Regions from separate parts of the Homo sapiens genome. Here all the other regions are linked to region 1. Evidence: fine-mapped expression QTL. A gene starts in region 1. Each other region holds a variant in brackets. All regions are shown on one strand. Distances are between the middles of the regions.

Region 1 (5,610 bases):
GCTGTCCTGATCTCTTTACCTAAAGAAATAGAAGGAATAACTGCTTTAAAATGCCCTTCTTCCTCAAGCCCATTTGTCACCCAGCAGAATTCAAGCTCCTCAGGGTGGGAAGAAATGGGATCCCCCTTCCCCTGCCCCAGGCTCCCCTCCTCTCTCCATCTTTCCATACAAAATTCAGGGCTGATGTGCATAACAGCTTGGAATCCCAGATGATGGCGGGGTAGGGAGACAGGATGGGCAAGGGAGGACCAGACTGACCTGGTAGGTCCTGGGACTGCCACTTTCCTGGGGGGCTGCAGATTGCTGCGAGTGGCACCCATGACAGGAAGATTTAGTCGCTGGGAAACAGGAACTTCATGGGGGTTAACAAAAGAAATGAGTTAGCAGCAAGTTTAACTGACCTCGAAAAGAAATACTGGATGAAGGGAGCGAGTGTGGGATTAGTACTCTCCCCCTGACCATGAGGTATTTGAAAACTAAGACTCAGACTCTGTCCAGCCCCATATCCTCTCTGTAACTCAGTCTCCCCATCTTCCAATTGAATTGCAATAAGGATGGCAAAAGTGGTCACTGTTGACAGCTCTGGGAGGGTGAGGACACGCTGGGCAAGGGCGGGCATTCTTCCTCCTGACCTCTTACCCTTGTGTCCACTTTCCCGCACTCTGTGTCCTGCAGTGCTTGGTCTTGGAAGCCCTTTTCGAGTTGACAGAGAATCCGGAGGTAGGGCACCTCTGCCAGGTGGCACACTCCGGCTGGTGAGTGGCATTCGGCTGGCAGGCCTGGGGATGGCCGAGGGAATGGGCAGTTGACTGGAAGATTTAGCAGCTGCTCCCTGCGGCCGGGGCAGGCGTTGAGAGTTGCTGGTAGAAGGCTGTGGGGCCAGGACGGATCTGATGGGGGTGGGTGGGCCTGGTGGAGAGGGGTGGAGAAATTTCAGGGTCAATCCCACAAACTCCCCACTCCCACTCACCCGCAACTTGGCTGCTCTGGTCTCCTCACTGGCTGCTGCTCTCCCACTGGGCCCGGCTCTCCCCCGGACTGGGGGAGTCGATCGGGTAAGAGGAGAAGATGCTGGGCTTTTGGATGCAGGGAACAGATTGCAAGTGGGTGACTCCTGAAACACAAAGAGAGAGAGAAAAAAGACTAGAGTGGAAAAAATATCTGTTCTGTGGCTTAAGGAATTAAGAAATAGAGGTGGAGAGTTGTCTACATCCCAGTAAGGAAGGGTAGAAGTTAGCTGCTAACATCACCACATCACCATCACCATCACTATTGCCAATACCATTTATTGAGTTTATCATAGACATATACTCAGACACTGTGGTAAGAGTTTTGGTTCTCTTTTTTCATGGTTCTCATTTAATTCCAACAATTCTAGATGTAGAAATGCTATCCCTGTTTTACCAATAAGGAAACCACTCCCTGCATCATGGCACACACCATGTCTGGGGCACACCTCCAACTCAACTCTCTCAACTCACCCTCTTCATGTTGGAGGGCCTCTTTCCAGATGTAGCCCGGAGAGCCCTGACTGACCCCTTCCTATCATTACTCCGGAGTCGAGGCGTCAGGCTGCTTGGGGAGGGGGTGCTCCGCGTCAAAGAGTTCACAGTGGGCAGCAGGTCTCGGACAGGACTATCCTTCAGCACAAAGGTCTCCCGCCGAGGACTGGGCTTCACTCGGCGAGGCCCCAGGCCCTCGCCTGCGCTCTCCCGATCCTGCAGGGCACACTGCTCCAGCTGAGCGGCCAGCCGGTTGGCCTCATCGAGGATCTCCTCCAGCTTCTCTGGACTGAGGGGGCCTAGGCTGAGCCTCACACCCTGGGGGGCAGGTGCCACTGCATTTGGGTCACTTCGGTGGGAGAGGCCCCGTCGAAGTGGTTTCTCTGGAGTCACCAACACTGTTATGTCTTCCTCCTCACGGCTGAGACAGGAAACAAACCAGGCATCATGCCCATGCAAAAGGGAACAGGAGATTATGCAAGGGAGACTGCATAAAAGCCCCACAACAGAGCCAGGGACATGACCCTAGGCCCCGATGCCCATGCTGGCTGTGAGATGTGGCCTCTGGGCGATGAGATACCTGGTTCTATGGGGCCTAATAGGCCTTTAGCATTTACGGACATCAGAAATGATGCCAGGATGGAGATGCAGCAAATCCACTTATCCTTCTTCTTAACACCCTGAAATCTAACTCCAGCTTCTCCCTTCTCTCCCCGCTACCAATAGTGTCATAGAGGCCCGAGTCAGCCAGCCGCCCAGCAGCCCCAAGTGCGCCAAACCTTGCTAAGTTACCAACCCAAGCCAATAATTCAGCAGTAAGGGATTCGAGACAAAGAGGTACTGTTAGAGGAAAATAAGTGGGATAAAGAGGCTGGTACCTGTCAGATGGTGACAGCCCCCCAAAGTCCAAGGTCTCATCCACAATAAACCTTACATCTGAAGGGGAAAGAAGAATGAAAGCCAGTCATGGGTCCCTGATGCAGCTCTCCATCGCTGGGTCTCACTCCTCCCTTTCATTCTTCCCTCCCTCCTTTCCTTACCTTCCTCCAAATCCTCCATGTCCAGCCAGCAGGAGCGAGAGTCCAGTTAGATCTGAGCTGGAGAGAAACCATACCTTTCCTCAGGTATCCATTCTGCCCAAGGCTCGCAGCTAGATTCAGGGTGCAAGCCAGGGTCGGGGGTCATGCTGGAGGCAAAGCAAGCGCCCAGGAGTGGCACCTCCCGCACAGCTACTCCTGCTACCTCCGGGAACGATACGGAGGGCTCCCCCAACTGCCCAGATTGCCCTGGAGCCGCCCTGCATCCTGGCCTCTCCTCACTGGGGGCGGCCTGCACGCCCCATCTTCCTCCCCGCCACTATCCTCAGGGTTCTGCACTCCCCAAGCCACCTTTCCACTCCCCTGGCATCACACGCGAAGCACACCTCCAGCCCACCCTGTGTCCACTTCCCGCGCCGCCTTATCTTCCACGCAACAGGCTTTCTCCCGCAACCTAGTCCCGGGAATCAGCTCCGAGGGGGCGGGGCTCCTTTCGAATCTCTCAGGCCCCACCTACTCAAGCCACACGCGCACCGTGATTGGTGAATCCTCAGGGGGAGGGGCTGAGGAGCTGCCGGCCGGAAGTCAGCCGGTGGGGGCTGGGGGAGAACCGTTCCCAGAAGACTGCATCCCGGTGGCGGAGCCGAGGGTTGAGGCTGCGAGTGCGCGTGCTCGCGTGCGCGGAGACTCTCTTTCCCGTAGGCAGATGGGAGCAGAGCGCGGCTGGCCAGGAGGGAAGAAACGGACCCACGAGTATGGAACTCGCGCCCCGCCCCGCTCCCTCTGCTGGGCCGCCGAGCACCCAGTCTCCAGAACGGTTGTGCTGCCTAACGTGGCCGCTAACCGACGCTCTACGGGAGGAAATTCGTTTTCTTGGGCGCACTCAATATGCAGGCGCCGCATTGGCCGAGGTTCCTCAGTTGTGGGTTTTTTCCAAGTTAAGGGAGCACCTAAACACTTATATTGTAGGTATATTGAGGTTCTCTTAGAAGTACATCCTCCATCGCCTCTTCAAGAACCTGAGGCAGCTGAGGTGCAAAGAAAGCAACGGGCTTTTCACGCAGGCAGGCTTAGGTTCAAATGCAACCCAAGTTTAACTGACCTCAGAACCCAAGTTTCGGTTTAGAGGCGGCTGCCTTGAGTATATTTGCCCTCTTTTCACCTCTCTTCGCTTATCTGTGAAAGGAGGATGTTGGTCCTCGCAGTTACGGTGTTACGAGGATAATTATGAAGGCGTTTTCTACCGTGTGCCCTTAGGGGATTTAGAGGGGGTGTTTGTAAGTAGCCCCCTCTGAACTAAAAGCAGTATTTGTAAAATGCTTAAACCAACTTGTTAGGAGTGTTGTCTCTGTTGTTTCTAAATGTTGCCCGGGCCACCAGTGAACTTGTCAGAGGCTTCAAACCAGAACGACTCCATCTGGAATAGAGGCTGGGTAAAATAAGGTTGAGACCTGGGCTGTATTCCTAGGAGGTTAGGCATTCTAAGTCACAGGATGAGATAGGAGGTTGGCACAAGATACAGGTCACAAAGACCCTGGTGGTAAAACAGCATGCGGTAAAGAAGCCAGCCAAAACCTACCGAAACCAAGATGGCGATGAAACTGACCTCTGGAGGTCCTCAGTCCTCATTATACGCTAATTATAATGTATTAGCATGCTAAAAGACACTCCAGACAGCATCACCACGGTTTACAAATACCATGGCAACATCAGGAAATTACCCTACATGGTCTAAAAAGGGGAGGAATTCTTAGTTCCAGGGAGTTGCCTACCCCTTTCCCGGAAAACTCATGAATAATTCATCCCTTGTTTAGCATATAATCAAGAAATAACCATAAAAATGGCCAACCAGCAGCCCTCCGGGCTGCTCTGCCTCTGGAGTAGGCATTCTTTATCCCTTTTCTTTCTTAATAAACTTGCTTTCACTTTATGGACTTGCCCTGAATTATTTCCTATGCAAGGGCCAAGAACCCTCTCTTGGGGTCTGGATCCGGACCCCTTTCTGGTAACAACAGGAGGAGACAGCAGGTCCGCACAAGATACAGATCTCAAACATCCCTCTAATAAAACGGTGCAGTAAAGAAGCCGGCCAAATCTGCCAGAAACCAAGATGGTAAAGAAAGTAGGCCAGGCGCGGTGGCTCACGCCTGTAGTCCCAGCACTTTGGGAGGCCGAGGCGGGCGAATCACGAGGTCAGGAGATCCAGACCATCCTGGCTAACACGGTGAAACCCCGTCTGTACTAAAAATACAAAAAATTAGCCGGGCGTGGTGGCGGGCCCCTGTAGCCCCAACTACTCGGGAGGCTGAGGCAGGAGAATGGCGTGAACTTGGGAGGCAGAGCTTGCAGTGAGCCGAGATCGCACCTCCGCACTCCAGCCTGGGCGACAGAGTGAGACTCCGTCTCAAAAAAAAAAAAAAAGAAAGTGACAGCTGGTCATCCTCACTGCTTATTATATGCTAGTTGTAATTCATTAGCATGCTAAAAGACACTCCTGCCAGCGTCCTGACAGTTTACAAATGCTATGGCAACGTCTATATGGTATAAAAGGGAGAGGAGCCTTCAGTTCCAGGAAATCATGCTCCTTTCCCAGAAAACCTATGAATAATCCACCCCTTGTTTAGCATATAATCAAGAAATAACCATAAAAATAGCTTACCAGCAGCCCTTGGGGCTGCTCTATGGAGTAGCCATTCTTTTATTCCTTTACTTTCTTAATAAATTCACTTTCACTTTACTCTGTGGACCCGTCCTGAATTCTTTCTTTTGAAAGATCAAAGAATCCTCACTTGGGGTCTGGATGGATCAAGACCCCTTTCCAGTAATAAACTGAGCTCCTAGAAAGGTTCTGAATATTTAAAGTGAAAAAGCCCTAAGGGAATGGTTGAGGAGCTTTCTGGTAAACAGAACCTGAGCTTTAGTCCTCAGAGTTCATGCCCATTTTTTTGGCCATTTATAGGCTTTCTTGTTTACTTTCTAGTTTTTGGCTGTGACGTTGAGGTGGTGAGGTCTGCAGGAGTGAGATGTCACTGTAATAAATGCCACCAGAGACCAAGAAGCTGGAAACCAAA
Region 2 (5,610 bases), 200 kb before region 1:
CGTGTAGCTGGGACCACAGGCATGCATCACCATGCCTGGGTAATTTTTTTATTTTTTGTAGAGACAGACTTTCACTATATTGTGCAGGCCAGTCTTGAACTCTTGAGCTCAAGCGATCCGCCCACCTCAGTGCCCAAAGTGCTGGGGCTACAGGCGTGAGCCACCAGGCCAACCACAGATACTTTTAAAACAAATTGTAGCAGGAGGAGCCTCAGACAAAACTCCTCAGACACCGAGTTAAAGAAGGAAGGGGTTTGTTCGGCTGGGAGCATCGGCAAGCCTCCTGTCTCAAGAGCCGAGCTCTTCAGGTGCTCAACTTGTGCTTTTAAGGGCTCACAACTCTAAGGGGATCCACATGAGAGGGTCATGATCGATTGAGCAAGCTAGGGGGTACATGACAGGGGCTGCAAGCACCAGTGGTCAGAGCGAAACAGAACAGAACTGGAGGTTTCACAATGTCTTTCCATACAATATATGGAATCTATAGATAACATCAGTTGCTAAGTCACGGGTCGAATTTTAACTACCAGGCTTAGGTCAGGCAGGCCTAGGCCTGGTTTCAGGTGTGGTTCCTAGGCACTGGGCTACCTGCCTTTAGTTTCTCTTCTCTTTCCTTTTCTGAGTATAGAACAATATGAGAGGGTCTCTCTCTTCCCTCAAAATGAACAACAATAATAGCTATCATTTATGGAATACTTACTCATGTCAGATATTGTTGTAAATAGTAATTCACTTAATCCTCCAACAACCTTAGAAAGGAACTAACTTAATTTCACAGAAAACTGAACTTTTTTTTTTTTTGAGACGGGGTCTCACTCTGTCACCAGGCTGGAGTGCAGTGGCGCGACCTCAACTCACTGCAACCTCCTCCTCCCGTGTTCAAGCGATTCCCCTGCCTCAGCCTCCCGAGTAGCTGGGACTACAGGTGCGTGCCACCACGCCCAGTTAATTTTTGTATTTTTAGTAGAGACGGGGTTTCACCATGTTGGCCAGGATGATCTCAATCTCTTGACGTGATCTGCCTGCCTCGGCCTCCCAAAGTGCTGGGATTACAGGCATGAGCCACCGCACCTGGTCAACTTTTTGATTTTAGAATATAAAAGTCTTGATACAACTAATTTTGAAATAGCCTGGTGAGACTCACTCTATTCAATTAAAAAAATGTAAAATATCTTTTACAATATGAAAAAGAAAAAATATGGTGGAGGGAGAAAGAAGAAATAAATTTAAGAGTGGGAGAAAAAAAGTAGGAAGAATAGAGACAGACGTGGAAAATGAAGAAAAAGTAAATTTTGAGTGGAGTTAAAAGAAAACTGTTTAATCATAAGATACTGTGTGCATTATCACTGCCCTTTAGAAATAGTAATTTGAGGCCGGGCACGGTGGCTCATGCCTGTAATCCCAGCACTTTGGAGCCCGAGGCAGGTGGATCATGAGGTCAGGAGATCAAGACCATCCTGGTCAACACGGTGAAACCCCGTCTCTACTAAAAATACAAAAAATTAGCCGGGCGTGGTGGCGGGCGCCTGTAGTCCCAGCTACTTCGGAGGCTGAGGCAGGAGAATGGCGGGAACCTGGGAGGCGGAGCTTGCAGTGGGCCGAGATGGCGCCACTGTACTCCAGCCTGGGCGACAGAGCGAGACTCTGTCTCAAAGCTAAAATAAAATAAAATAAAAATTGGAATTTGCCACTGGGTGTGGTGGCTCACGCCTGTAATCCCAGCACTTTGGAAGGCCGAGGCGGGCGGATCACGAGGTCAGGAGTTCAAGACCAGCCTGGCCAACGTAGTGAAACCCCATCTCTACTAAAAATACAAAACTTAGCCGGACACGATGGCGCATGCCTGTAGTTCCAGCTACTCCGGAGGAGAGGCAGAAGAATTGCTTGAACCCAGGAAGCAGAGGTTGCAGTGAGCAGTGATTGCACCACTGCACTCCAGCTTGGGCAACAGAGTGAGACTTTGTCTCAAAAAAAAAAAATTGTAATTTGCCAATTCATCACTCCTCCTGGTTTTTCAGCTTTGATTTCATCCTTAATTTTTTTTTTCTGTTTATGAGACACAGTCTTGCTCTGTCTCCCAGGCTGGAGTGCAGTGGCGTGATCTCAGCTTAATGCAACCTCTGCCTCCCCGGTTCAAGTGATTATCCTGCCTCAGCATCCCGAGTAGCTGGGATTACAGACAGACACCACCACACCCAGCTAATTGTTGTATTTTTAGTAAAGACAGGGTTTCACGATGTTGCCAGGCTGGTCTCCAACTCCTGACCCCAAGTGATCCACCTGTCTCGGTCTCCCAAAGTGCTGGGATTACAGGTGTGAGCCACCATGCCCAGCCTTTACATTTTATT[CT/C]TTTTTTTTTTTTTTTTGAGAGGGAGTCTCACTCTGTTGTCCAGGCTGGAGTACAGTGGCACAATCTCGGCTCACTGCAACCTTCGCCTCCCAGTCTGAAGCGATTCTCCCTCCTGCCTTAGCCACCTGAGTAGCTGGGATTGGAGGCTCACGCCCCCATGCCCGGCTAATTTTTGTGTTTTTAGTTTTGTGTTTTTAGACAAGGTTTCACCATGTTGGCCAGGCTGGTCTTGAACTCCTGACCTCAGGTGATCTGCCCACCTTGGCCTCCCAAAGTGCTGGGATTACAGGCGTGAGTCATTGCGCCCGGGCTTAACTTTTTTTTTTTTTTTTTTTTTTTTTTTTTTTTGTGGTGGAGTCTCACTCTGTTGCCCAGGCTGGAGTGCAATGGCACAATCTCGGCTCACTGCAATATCCGTCTCCCAGGTTCAAGTGATTCTTTCGCCTCAGCTTCCTGAGTAGCTGGGATTACAGGCACCTGCCACCACTCCCGGCTAATTTTTTTGAATTTTTAGTAGACACGGGGTTTCACCATGCTGGCCAGGCTGGTCTCGAACTCCCGACCTCAGGTGATCCTCCCGCCTCGGCCTCCCAAAGTGTTGAGATTACAGGCGTGAGCCCCTGCGCCCAGCTGATTAACTTTTATTCTAACCTCTGAGAATGACAGAAGAGGAAAGACTTGTCTTTCAGAGTATGACAAAAACTGAAGAGGTTTTCATCTAGTTAAAAAAAAATGGGGAGAAAAAATTATCTCTAAAAAGTGAGTGGCATGAGCAAAAATGAGAAAGCAAAGACTGTAACTGAAGAACATAGTCTTTATAGACAAAGCTTAAAGCCCATATAGGGAACAGTGGAAAATACTATTGGAAGGCCTTGAGTAGCAGGCTAAGGACTTAGGCATTATTCAGTAGGTAGTGGTTGCTGTCAAAGGAAACACCAGTGTGGTATGGAGGAAAATTTTCTAGTCCTGATTTCAGAAGGCTGGAATTATTGTGCCAGTGTAATACTTGGCAGTCCTTACCCTAAACCTTGGTTTATTTCTAAAACAGGGGTAATCAGGCAGTTGTGAGGGTTAAATAAGATCATATGACAAGGTGTGTTTGCTTTGAAAATGTCAAAATGTTATAAAAATGTAAGTTTTCATTGTTGTGAGGACATAATTGATACTTAAAGACTACCGATATAGCAAAATTACTAAGGTGATGGCTGTAGGATTACAAGAGGGGCAATTTTTTTTCTTTTCTTTGTTTTTTTTGAGACGTAGTTTCACTGTTGCCCAGGCTAGCGTGCTATGGCAGGATCTCAGCTCACCGCAACCTCTGCCTCCCCAGTTCAAGCGATTCTCCTGCCTCAGCCTCCCAAGTAGCTGGGATTACAGGCATGTGCCACCATGCCCGGCTACTTTTGTATTTTTAGTAGAGACGGGGTTTCTCCATGTTGGTCAGGCTGGTCTCGAACTCCCGACCTCAGGTGATCCGCCCACCTCGGCCTCCCAAAGTGCTGGAATTACAGGCGTGAGCAACCGCGCCCGGCCAAAGGGGGGCAGTTATTATTATTATTATTATTATTTGAAATGGAGTCTCGCTCTGTCGCCCAGGCTGGAGGGCAGTGGTGCTGTCTCGGCTCACTGCAACCTCTCCCTCCCGGGTTCAAGCTATTCTCCTGCCTCTGCCTTCCGAGTAGCTGGGATTACAGGCGCACGCCACCATGCCAGGCTAATTTCTGTATTTCTTTTTTTCTTTTTTCTTTTTTTTTTTTTAAGTAGAGACGGGGTTTCACCATGTGGTCAGGGTGGTCTTGAACTCCTGACCTCAGGTAATCCGCCTGCCTCGGCCTCCCAAAGTGCTGGGATTACAGGCGTGAGCCGCGCCCGGCCAGCTGCTGCTGTTTTAGACAATGGTTGATGAAGGATTCGAAGGCCTAAACAATAGAGCTTTTGTTCTGTTTTGTTTTTGAGTGGTCCTGAACAGTTCTTTTGGGCAGGGGAATTTGTCTGTGTGTGAATGTGCAAACATATATATAATCTGAGTGGCTGCCTGGCCTTGTCCTAGGTTTTGTCCCGTATATACGCCGTCTTTTTTTTTTTTTCTTTCTGCATGTATGTATATTTTCTCAAGGCATCTGTCCTGCACTAGACTTTGGCTTGTCTTTCCAGGCCAGCTTCCAGAGGATGCTTTGGCAGTTTTCCCTCTGGGTAACCAAGCAGGCTGCAGCCAGCAGATGGCACTGCAGCAGAAAGGGGCAGAGTCCCTTTAGGCCCTTGACAAGCACGGCGGATTAGTAACCGTATAATTTAACCCTCCAGTTAGCCTTGGAGGACTCGGTGTCGCACTTCCGCCCGAACTCTAATAAAGCGGGCCGAGTTGTGTGCAATTAAGGATTTCAGTATGCAAATCTGAATCTGTACTTTTGTCTCCTCCACCCCACCCCCATCATTAGACTGGCAATGTCTTTTGTCACGTTGTCAAAGTGTCCTCAGAGAAGCGGTGTCTAGATATCGCCGATTTCTGGTTAAAGTGGCTGAAGTGATCCCAGCATTAATTAAATGCAGGAGAATCGAGATTCTCCTGATAGTTTAAGGAAAAGAAAAATTCACACAAGCAAACGGGCAACCCTTTGAATGTTTTCCGACGACGTGGTGCTTTAGGATCTGAAAGATGCGACTTGGTTTTTGTTGTTGTTGTTGTTGTTGTTGTTGTTTTTGAGACGGAGTTTCCGCTCTTGTTGCCCAGGCTGGAGTGCAATGGCGCGATCTCGGCTCACCGCAACCTCCGCCTCCCAGGTTCAAGCGATTCTCCTGCCTCGGCCTCCCGAGTAGCTGGGATTACATTACAGGCATGAGCCACCATGCCCGGCTAATTTTGTATTTGTAGTAGAGACGGGGTTTCTCCATGTTGGTCAGGCTGGTCTCGAACTACGATCTCAGGTGATCCGCCTGCCTCGGCCTCCTAAAGTGCTTAGATTACAGGCATGAGCCACCGCGCCCGGCTAATTTTGTATGTTTAGTAGAGACGGGGTTTCTCCTTGTTGGTCAGGCTGGTCTCGAACTCCGACCTCAGGTGATCCGCCTGGCTCGGCCTCCCAAAGTGCTGGGATTACAGGCGTGAACCACCGCGCCCGGCCGCGACTTGTTTTTGTTACAAGGTTCCTCATTTCATTTGCAACGTTCAGACGCAGTCTGACTAGATTTCCATCCGGAGTAAGGAAGAGCAGCTCAAGGGCAGTCACGGAGGCCGCAGGTGCGGCTTCTTCACCCGCGGT
Region 3 (5,610 bases), 31 kb after region 1:
CAAAGGAAAGAGGGAATCTCTATCTGGATGGTTGGCCTGGAAACTAAATAATGACTAATGCCAGGCCAGCCCCGTTACCCTGGGGTGGGTATGGATGGCCCTGGGCTCCCCTCCGTATCCTGGTATCGTGACGAAGGCCATGAGAACCAGCTCTGGTTTACAGACTCGATGCAGGAGCTGGAGGTGGCCAGCACATTACCAGCCTGTCAAGGATGAAAGACCACCTTGGGCATGGAGAGGCCCAGAGGCAAGCATCAGAGCAAGAGAGAGGAGGTGGGAAGTCCATTCAGAGGCAGACGTAGATTCTACGTTCCAGTTACGGCTGATCTATGGACTCTCCTGAGCCCGCCCCCAGAACTGCCGCAACTCTCCAAAGGCTTTTATTCTTTGAAATAGAGTTGCCATTGAATTAAAAGCCTACAGGAGAGACGGGCCTGGTCTGTGGTCTCACTAAAGCCCAATGCCCAATTAGGTCCAGAGAAGAAAGAAGAGTGAGTTCCCTACCTGGATTTAAGAACTCGGACCACTTTGGACTGGTTTGTCCAATCTCTCTTATAATGCTAAATTCCATTGCTGAAGCCTCCAGAAATGATCTCTTCTGCTACATCAAGCCTGGGAGTTTACACAATGATACACTATGTTTTACCTTCAAAGATAATGCTCCTAACATGAGTAGGACAAATTAGAAATCTATTTTTTTAGAAGCTGTAACAGATTTGGGCTTTCTTACTCTCTGGCTGAGGGCACACATTTGTGAGTGAGCAGGTTGATAAAGAAAGCTAACTAGCCAATAATGAGAATGAGCCAGGCTGGCTGTCAGTCTTCAAACCAACAGAGCTAGCCAGCCCGGGGTGGAAACCAGGATGGGGAGGGAGACCCATCAGTGGAGAGTCCACTCCTGCACTCTTGAGCAGTGACCCTCAATGAGGGGAGGGGCAGTTTCTGCAAACGTATTTAAAATTCCCATTACTTTTGTTTTCAGCCATGAAAGACAGGAAAATACAATTTTCTGTTCACCAAGGTGGCAAAAAGGTGCTAAATACTGCTAGGAAACAAATGCCACTGATCCCTGTCATAAAGAACAGCAAGTCATCTACAAGAAGGCAGCCTTGCTCAAAGTGGTTAGCACTCGCATGTGTAAAGATTTCCAAGAGTTCTGAAGACAGCCAGCCAGCACTGCTTATCACACACACGGGGACCCTGAACAACTGACTCCATCCCAAGAACATTGTGAGGTTCAAATGACATTATGTGAGTGAAGGTGCTCTGAAAATTTGCCAAGTTCCACAGAAATCCCAGATATCATTAAAAGCGAAGAGCCCTATCGTATATGGTTAGAGAAGAATATTGAGTTTCCTACGTCTTAAAATGAGTAAGAGGATTACCATGTATTGGTGCATCTGCCCACAGTGAGTACATGCTGGGAGAAAGGTGAGTGGTATAAACAGTTCTTTTCTGAGTACCAAATTCACTTTGGGCAGGAGGGAGGGTGGGGCAGAGGCTGACGTTTTCATTTGTGAGCTGGTGTATCTTCGGAATTATTTTTAATTTTAAAACCATGCAAAATGAATAAGCAAAAAGACTAGTGCACTCCAGCCCTAACCATATTATCTTCACAAAAACTGCCTCAACTTTATTTTCTAACTGAAGCTCCCTGACTCATTTCATTCTACTGCAGTTTTAACATCTCTAAAAGTCTCCATCCACTCTCTCCCCCACTTTCCACGCAGCTGTTAATCCATTCTGGGGAGGAGAGAACTTAGCCATCTGCTCACATTCTGACTAAAGTTAATTTGGCACTTCAAATAAAAAAAAAAAAAAACACACAAAACTGACTTTCTAGCCACAAAATAAACTAGTAGCAAATGGTATCTACCAAAGAATGTCCCAGTCATAATCATTGGGAGAAACTGTGACCCGCACAGTAGCTACATTAAGACCAAAAACTTTCCATACTATATTTCTATATAGCAAATATTCAAGCTGTATTAAAACTAATTATTGCAGCTTTCCATTACTATATGGCCACCCCAAAATCCACCCAACTACATTCTATAATTTATTTAATTTAGAGAGGTATCAAATGGAAAACTTCTTTTAATCCAAAATAAGAACTTAATGTATCACACAAAGCATCATCTAGACTGGAAGTGTGTTTTCAATTGGTTCCTCCAAAATTTTCGTGTCAACAAATTACTTGGCAAAGTCAGAAAAAAGGGGTGAGAAGGAAAGCCTGGTAATAAAATTCTAATTTTTTAAGTCTATAAATCTGAAAAAATCTCTAGTCCTGGTTCCATGTACAACAGCAACCTAAGAAGCAGCAGATAGGCAGCCATTGTCATGATTTAGCAACGAGCCACACGACAGTTAAGAAGGGAACATGGAAGACTGTGAGGTTCCGTCTTCGGGGGTTCACACTGTGTACCCGACAATCAACTCTAGGGAAGAGATCATTCAGCCTGGGCAGACTTCCAGCTAAGTTTGTACCCTGTCCTTGCGTAAGTCTACTGGCACACACACAAAGCACAGCTTGAAAAATCTCAGAAGAAGCAAGAGTTCTCTTTTAATAGGTGCTATATCTAGTCAATTCTCTGCTGCTCCCTTCTTCCTGCCCCAAGTTAAAAATATTGCCCTGTAAGTTTTCCTGATGTACTGTGTGGGAAGCACATGGTTAAGTTAGTTGCCAAAGGGCAATTAACAAGGGTATTGCCTAATTAAACAAGGGAAAAGAAAAATCACTGTGGTCTGTGGTCTCTGAAAAAAAAAAAAAGAGTAAGTGGGATCTGTGTGAGGAGCTGGTGTGCAGTGTTCTTGGAGTAGGACTGTCCCCAGATGGAGAAAAGCCGGCCAGGCTGTGCCAGCCTCTGCAGCCTGTTTTCATCTCTACAGCTGTTTCGTCTCGCCAGCAGAGCCCAGGGATGGTACCAAGTACACTGTGAGAGCTGATACTGGAGTTGGCAGATGCCCTGGGGCAGGC[G/A]CCATGCAGAACACACAGAAGTGGGGTTAGTGAAAAGGTCCCTTCGAATTCCATTTCGTTTCCCTTAAAAAACAAAAACAAAAAAGCCCATACTTTGCAAAGAGACAGGACGAGAAATAAGAAGTTAAAGAATTTAAAATGTCTCCCTTTTTCTCAGAGCCAATTGTAAAAAAGTGCTCAGGGTTCCCCACCCCCACCCTGCATTTCTTTAGTGTAGGTCCTTTTGGCTTTGATGGAAGCAGCAGAAACAGAGCTGGGTCCCTCGCAATGGGAAATTTATTTCCTGAAGTTGGAGCCACAGGGAGTGTAAGAGGTACTGTGGTTCCACCATCCATGCTGGGTCCAGCTCCTCTGAAGAGCTATTCCAAGAGGTCCTGAAAAAGACATGCACCATATTACCGACAGACCACAACACTCCTATTTCAAAAGCAATCACCTAGTTTCTGGGCTTGCCAAATCTTATGGTCATTAAGTCGCCTTGGCCCTGGCATATCTTGATCATGAATAGAAGACAGACTTTATTTTCTTGTATTTTTTGGGGGGGGGGGTACTACCATTCAAGAAGAAATAGCCTCACCTCATCTGAGTCATCATGATAACCACTTTTATTAGTGTGGGAGGCTGTGTCCAAAGCATCCACACCATCCACACCATTGGCCTCTGCATGCTGCTGCAGCACAGAGTATCGATGCACCAGGAACCTGTGAACAGAAACCTCCTTAACACTCGGTGGTACACAGCAGGGGTGCACTTCTTACAGGACTGTGGACTTTCTCAGTTTTATACACTCAGGAACGCATCACAGACACAGAAAGCACAGTCCATGGTTGACATATGAAAAATGTACGACATGAGAAGATTTGGGCCTGATTTTTCAGGAACAGTACTGCAAGTACCTAGTTTTTGCCAAGAGTAGACTCAGCCATATGCCCTAGATCAGCCTTCTGGCTTGAACTCAGTACCTTGGATTGACTTCTGTGTTCCTTACCTTCCCCCACAGACATATTTCTTCACAATGAGCACTCCTGCTACGACTGTGACCAGCATCAATCCCACGATGGCCAGGATAATTGGAACAGAATTTGACTTGGAATTCTTGAGAAATTAAAACACAAACACAAAAGTTTTAGGCATGCATATCCTAGGACTGAGGTCAAGGCAGCCACTCATTCCCCTCATCTCTTTGTGAATGATCTGCAGTCCTGATGCGCTTAATGATGGCTCTTTTCCAACCCCCCAAGATGAACCATCTCAGTGTTACCAGGAGAATATTATAGCTGGCAGAGAGTCATCTTAGCTCCAACTGCCTTGAACCTTCAAATTCTGTGGTTTAAATGTCAAAGTTACACTGGAAGCCTGGGCAACTGCCTAGATCAAGTATGATTGCTTCACACTACCACTGTTCACAAGTCTTGGGGCTTAAGGGTGGAGTAGGAAAGGGAGACTACTGTAACAGTAGGCTGAATGACTCTAGAACAGGGCCATTATCTGGGAAGAAGCTGTGTCAGAAGAACCAGGCAGGCCATTATATGACACCAAGATTTATTTGTTTACTTAATTTTTTATATATTATTATAAATAAGCCTTATCATATCACTGTTTGCATGTGACCTACCTGCTTCTGGGTGGGAAATAGGGAGTGTGTGTTTTCAATGTATCCCAGAGGAGGCAGAGCTGGATTCTAGGACAAGCTGTGTCCCTGTGGGTGGGAGTCCTGTGCAATCACACACACGAACACTCTGAGGAGAGTCACCAGGAGCCCAGGACAAGGGTGCACAGAAGGAGGAACTCGCCCCCTTACCAATACACACACTCACACACTCCTCTCCCATCATCTCCTTAATCCCACCCCTTGTCAGTCCCTCATCCCTTAGAACAGCAGAGAGGAGGGACTGCAGGTGATCCAGCTTGACCTCTCCTATTACGAATTGGGAAACGGGCCTGCTGTTGAGCATCTGAAGTCATGCTGCTGGTCTAGTGTTTCATTATCAAGAGGTTTCCTCTTTACACATCTCCAGTTCCACAGGTAGTTCAGTGCTACAGATTTGGATGCAGCCTCATAACCTTTTTTTTTTTTTTTTTTTTTTAAATTGAGACAGGATCTCACTCTGTCACCCAGGCTGGAGTGCAGTGATATGATCATGGCTCACTGCAGCCTTGACCTCCCAGGCTCAGGTGATTCTCTCCCTTCAGCCTCCTGAGTAGCTGGGACTACAGGCACACACCACCACATCCGGCTAATTTTTGTATTTTTTTTGTAAAGATGGAGTTTCTCCATGTTGCCCAGGCTGCTCTCCAATTCATAGCCTCAACTGATCTCCCCACCTCAGCCTCCCAAAGTGCTGGGACTATACAGGAGTAAGCCACCATGCCCGACAGGTAACTTGCTTCATTTAAATCAAAACCAGCCCATTACCATAGCTCAATTTTTCACTTTGAACATACTTAACATGACTTGGTCAGAGATCCACCCTACCTATTGCCCAGTGCTCTTCTCTTCCACACATGCACAATTCCAGGTCATGGCCCTTCACAGACAACCTTTTTTTTTTGGTACGGAGTCTTGCTCTGTTGCCCAGGTTGGAGTGTAGCAGCACGATCTCGGCTCACTGCAACCTCCACCTCCCAGGTTC
Region 4 (5,610 bases), 87 kb after region 1:
ACAACAACAACAAAAACATGTGCTGAGTGTGACAGTCTGGTGAAAACTTAGGATGGCTAGAAGATCTTTTACATCAACTGTTACGTGCCATCATGTCTAGAAAAGGGAGAATCTATATTCTCAATGTTACTTAGTGAAATGCTCCAACGCGTGTTATTGATCTCACCTTCGATATAGCTTGGACTGTCCAAAAGTCATAATTACCAGTGGTACATGGAAGGTAGTCAAGACTAGAATGACCTGGAGAGAGAAAAAAGCATTCCGTAAATAAAAAAGATATTCCAATCACATGCTGATATGTGTTCGAGATTAAGCCAACACCTAAAAGACTTTTGATATCCCTACTTTGTAGTACTCCCCAAAGTCTAGAAGGATCTAGTTACTAGGGCTGAGAATGATGAGAAAGTCCTCAGCTCATTTTGTTGGGATGATCCCCATTGCCTCCATTGAAGCAGTGAGGCTGACTACTCAAATACACATTAAAATAAAAGAAGGCTTTAACTATTTTGTATCCAAATTATTGTAAGATACTCTCAGGCAAGAACCCTCTTCCCTTTTCTCCTTACAGAGTCTAGAATAGCGTGGGTGTTCTCACAGAGATCACTGTGTCATGTATGTCTGTCTTTTTCTTCTCCTTGCCGTTGGTTCTTCATGAAATTCATTTTTTCAGTACCTTATCTACCAAAAACTATGCATGAGGAAATGATTCTGGATGGATTACTATAAGAGTCTAGGGAGTCTCAGAAAGCCATATGAGAAATCTTGGAGATGGCTGGGCACGGTGGCTCACGCCTGTAATCACAGCACTTTGGGAGGCTGAGGCGGACGGATCACTTGAGGTCAGAAGTTCGAGACTAGCCTGGCTAACATGGTGAAACCCCATCTCTACTTAAAATACAAAAATTAGCCGGGCGTGGTGGTGCTTGCCTGTAGTCCCAGCTTCTTGGGAGGCTGAGGCATGAGAATTGCTTGAACCTGGGAGGTGGACGTTGCTGTGAGCCAAGATTGCACCACTGCTCTCCAGCCTGGGTGACAGAGCAAGACTCTGTCTCAAAAAAAAAAAAAAAAAAAAAAATTCTTGGAGATACCAACTATCTAAGATAAATGGGTAAATCATGGAAATTAGGGTACAACTCAAATTTTAGAAAAAACTGAACTATGCTTAAAGAAATTCTACTGAAAGTTTAAAAATTAATCAAAATAAGAAATTTACAATTTGCTTTTCAGCACCAAGATTTTATTTCTTTAGGCTTCTAATATAACTATCATGTGCCTCAATGCTATGACACATGCATTATGGAATACCAGGGGGCAGGAGATGTTGCCCCTGCTCTTGTTCAAGCAGGATAATAAGACAGCCAGGCAACAAGTCCTGATTTAAGACCAGGGGCCAATGTATCCTCAGCGTGTCCTCCTAGTGGGAGCCCAGCTGTATATCAGGAGGGATAAGGAGCTGACTGATCCTCCTTCCATTCCCCCAATCCTGGCAGTACCTCCTTTGTGGCAGGGGCAGGGACCAACAGATGAACAACCATGAGCCCATGGGCACCACAGTCCCTCAACACACCTGTAGGAAAGGACACAGGAACAATACAATTTGGAGGAAAAGTGCCAGGATGTTTTTAATGGACATTTTCTGTTTCTATATAGGGGTTTCCCCAAGCATTGTGCGCTTCCCTTCTCAGTACAGAGCACTTTCATCTTTCTTCTTGCTCATCTTGATGCTAAGCAGCCACCAAGGACTGAAAAGGTGTCCATCTTCCCACCGTGGAAGAAGGTGGTCAGAAGATGTTCCCGGCCAGGCGCAGTGGCTCATGCCTGTAATCCCAGCACTTTTGGGAGGCTGAGGCGCGTGGATCACCTGAGGTCAGGCGTTCAAGACCAGCCTGGCCAACATGGTGAAACCTCATCTTCACTAAAAATACAAAAAATCAGCTGTGCATGGTGGTGGGTGCCTGTAATCCCAGCTCCTTGGGAGGCTGAGGCAGGAGAATCGCTTGAACCCGGGAGGTGGAGGTTGCAGTGAGCTGAGATCATGCCATCGCACTCCAACTTGGGCAACAAGAGCGAAACTCCGTCCCCACCCCCCCGCAAAAAAGATGTTCCCAATTCTAAAGCAAAACCAACACAACTACAACTTCCTGAAAGTCTGTCTTGCAAACATGTGTTTTCTGTGATTGAGGCTAA[A/G]GACAGTTTCAGGAAGAAATGATATTAGGTGCTTAACCCTTCCCCAAATCTGTTATCATCTTCTTGCTGGGCTGAAATAACAGACTCAAAATATGACTTACCCCAGTGCTATCTCCAACCCAGGACAAGGATACTGAGCCTCTGAGATCATCAAACACATGCTATAAGGGGAAAAAAAATTAATTTAGAAATGACAGCCACTCTCCTTCAATCTTTGGCTTCTTTAAATATCTGAACTTTATTACTGTTCAGAGTAATTAAGTTCATAATTACAAAGTGGGTATGGATTCCCAGTACAAAATTTGGGAGGGATGGGATTTAACTACTTAATGTGAATCACAAATAACTTGGAAATTTAAATTCTCTCTAACACAAAGTAAGCCAAGCAGATGAGTTTTCTTTACTGCACCAGATGGGGAGATGGGAGATGGGACAATCTAATTGCTTTCTCCAACAGAACTAAATATAAAGGTATAGCAAAGTATTTTTAGGATGCTTTAAAACAAAAGATCATAGCCCACACTGGCAGGCGTAATTGTAACCAAATCAACATAATTTAAATTTTTCTGGGCATCCTTTACAGTATAGCTGAAAAGTTCGTAACTGGATTCCTTTTACTTCTAGTCTAGCTCACTCAAAAATGACAACGGGCAGAAGCAAGAAGCAAATGCCTTTGTTTCACCTTTTTATTTAATAACAATAGTAATAATGATAATAATAAAACAACCTTACTAGAGTTGCAGTGAGAGTAAGGAGGTAAAAAAGGGAAAGCTGGTATATTATATCCAAAATATAGTAAGCATGTTAAAATATAGTTATAATAATCATTGTAGGTGGTTTTGGGTTTTGTTTTTCAAATACTTCCTTTCTCTACTTATACAATAATATATATTCATTAAAGAAGATGTAGACAATTATAAGAACGCATAATAAAGATAAGTCACTCATAATCCTACCACATAGAGATATTCAAGGTTAATATTATATGTATTAATACAATCGTCTGTTCTCTATAATTTTTGTAACTGATAAAAAAAATAAAAATTCCAAAGAGGTAATAACTGCACTTGGCAAAAATTTCAAACCATATAGAAATTACATACTATATAGAGTCTATATAGCAAAGAGTGAAGATCCTTCTCTTTTCCAGGCCACATGCTCACCACCCAAGCCCCATTTCTTAGACAGTTTAATAGTTCAGTATATATTTCTAATAAATGTGGATGATTATGCTTTTTTCTTAAGACTTATAATCTTACTAAGATTTTAAAATCTTAAACATGCCTTGCCCTCCCAGATATGAGAAGCTCCTTGGAAGCTGGGGAATGTAACTTTATACTTCTTGGTACTCCCTGTGCCTTCCACAGGAATACTTTGCACACTCAGTAAGCATTTGTTGAAAATGATTACACATCCTCCCCAAACCACAAACTCAACCTCAAAATAGAACATGTCTATAAATGGTTGGGATGCCAGCTACTTGGTCACTCAAGCCACCAATCCCACATAGAAATCTAAAGAAACAGAACTCAAAACATGAACTGTTTTGTTTATCTTCGAATTTTCTCTTGCAGTCTTGAATGGGCTTCCGAATTCACGTATGTGATTTCCCCTCTGGACCGTAAGTACCTTTGATGTCAAAAGAATCTCTTACACAATTTTTGTAAGTTAGTACAATCAGTGCCTCACGCAGGTCTTGCTCCGTAAATAATGGTTAACTCTCAAATGCTCGGCAGAGCTTCTCACAGCCTCTGCAGGAAAGAAGGGCTATTCAGACATGCAGGCTTGCCAGGCATCTGAGAAAAAGTAGGGCTGCCAGAGCTTCTGAAACCAGAGGCTTAAAAACTGACATAGCAGTGTGTCTTATATGATATTTCACACATAGCAAAACCTCACATTCTCTTGAGTGAGGATAGTGTCTGAAATGACATCAATGAGGTCCTTCAGGAAAAACAGGAACATCCAGAGCTACCACAAGCACCAGGCAGATCACAAGGGCTAAGATCACAGTCATCTAAACACAGGTTATCTTTCCAAGGAAGGTCCTTGTCATAACTAAGAGAAAAGAAAAAGTCCATCAGTTATGGCACTGGAATTCGTGGTTGTCTTCATCAGGCTGTAAGATATCAGTCTTGAGCCAATCAGGACTGCAACTTTTACTTTTCAGGCAATGCTCTACACAGCCGACCCAGTCAATGCAGACTGGCATTACCCACATTTTCCTATTGCTCAACTACAGAATGAGGAGGATTATCACGTGTCACCGGCAACTCTCAGCTTCACTGAAACAACTGAAATGGTAATGGACCTCACTCATCATCCAAAGAGTTCCTTTGGAAATGTAGGCCAGATTTACTAGCAAAACTGTGGTTTTCTACTGCCCTTAAGCTGTCCCTCCCACCCACTCCAAATAACCAATGAAGATTTGCTTTTGAAAATGGGCAAACTCACTGAAAAACTCATCTACCTATAGCAAATGTAATTAATTTTTTAATATTTCAGTCTCTAACATTCTTATACTGGTGAAAGTTAAAAAAGAAAAATGAAATGAGATGTTACAGCAGGCCCAAAGGTTAAGCAGAAAGAAAAGGTCATATGGAAAGGAGATAAATCCAGGAGAGCTAGGGACCCAAGAGTACAGATTCAATCCTGCCACTTCAATGGGAGAAAAAAATACGGATGTCCAGGAAAGGGCAGACAACCTGGTCATGGTTAGGAGACAGAATTCACAAGTCAGCACAAAGCCATCAATCCTAATCCAGAATCATTTCTAATATTTAAGACAACGTACATGTCATTCTACACTGCAGTGGCATCTTAGATCTTTCAAAATATGTATTACAGCACTTTTAATTGTAGCCACAAGAACCTTGCCTGTCCTCCCCACTAGACCTGAGGTCCATCTGGTAAAGGAATCAAGCCCATACATTTCAGCAGCTAACACACAGCATAGTGCACAGTGGGCACGCAATAAATATTGAATTCTTTAAGAACTACTTATGAAGTTTTGAAAAAGATGACGCCCAAGTAAAAGGATAAGGCCAGGCCCACTTAACTTCCCCATGACAGACATGAGTATGAAATGTAAAAGTTCATTTCTGGGTGGACTTCTGCTTCTGGTCAAGATGGAGTGACAGGGATCACATTTACCTTTCTACCGGAAACAGCTAATAAAAAACAAAACAAAACAAAACAAAAACACAGAATGGGCCGGGCGCGGTGGCTCACACCTGTAACCCCAGTACTTTGGGAGGCCGAGACAGGCGGATCACGAGGTCAGGAGTTCGACTGAAACCCCGTCTCTACTAAAGATACAAAAAATTAGCCGGGCGTGGTGGCGGGCACCTGTAGTCCCAGCTACTCCGGAGGCTGAGGCAGGAGAATGGCGTGAACCTGGGAGGCGGAGCTTGCAGTGAGCCGAGA

Which allele goes with the higher level. Positions count from the first base shown, and alleles are read on the strand shown. Sizes are in standard deviations (SD) of each study's normalised expression. Not every link is listed here.
For the expression in naive CD8 T cells of the gene that starts at base 3,008 in region 1, allele CT in region 2 goes with a lower level than allele C (large effect, 1.2 SD a copy in Schmiedel 2018).

Evidence for each region.
Region 2: its variant is fine-mapped to the expression of PSRC1 in naive CD8 T cells (Schmiedel 2018, PIP 0.95).
Region 3: its variant is fine-mapped to the expression of PSRC1 in spinal cord (GTEx, PIP 0.98).
Region 4: its variant is fine-mapped to the expression of PSRC1 in whole blood (TOPMed, PIP 0.92).

The regions. Positions count from the first base shown.
Region 1 is chr1:109,280,138-109,285,747 of GRCh38, forward strand. It overlaps PSRC1 (proline and serine rich coiled-coil 1), which reads right to left and starts at 3,008. Exons shown (of 8, transcript NM_001032291.3): 1 at 2,926-3,008; 2 at 2,543-2,599; 3 at 2,381-2,438; 4 at 1,482-1,923; 5 at 1,000-1,114; 6 at 640-909; 7 at 259-352; 8 at 1-19. The coding sequence starts at 2,561. The coding sequence ends at 16. RefSeq lists enhancers at 3,377-4,102, 3,470-3,519.
Region 2 is chr1:109,084,826-109,090,435 of GRCh38, forward strand. No RefSeq gene overlaps it. Among named protein-coding and RNA genes, the nearest start is that of TMEM167B-DT, 2.9 kb to the left of the region's middle. RefSeq lists an enhancer at 5,573-5,610. The variant CT/C (reference allele first, on the strand shown) is at 2,349.
Region 3 is chr1:109,310,707-109,316,316 of GRCh38, forward strand. It overlaps SORT1 (sortilin 1), which reads right to left. Exons shown (of 20, transcript NM_002959.7): 18 at 3,966-4,072; 19 at 3,555-3,678; 20 at 1-3,351. The coding sequence ends at 3,337. Among named protein-coding and RNA genes, the nearest start is that of MYBPHL, 6.5 kb to the left of the region's middle. The variant G/A (reference allele first, on the strand shown) is at 2,978.
Region 4 is chr1:109,367,242-109,372,851 of GRCh38, forward strand. SORT1 (sortilin 1) reads right to left here. Exons shown (of 20, transcript NM_002959.7): 2 at 2,289-2,348; 3 at 167-240. Among named protein-coding and RNA genes, the nearest start is that of SORT1, 28 kb to the right of the region's middle. The variant A/G (reference allele first, on the strand shown) is at 2,188.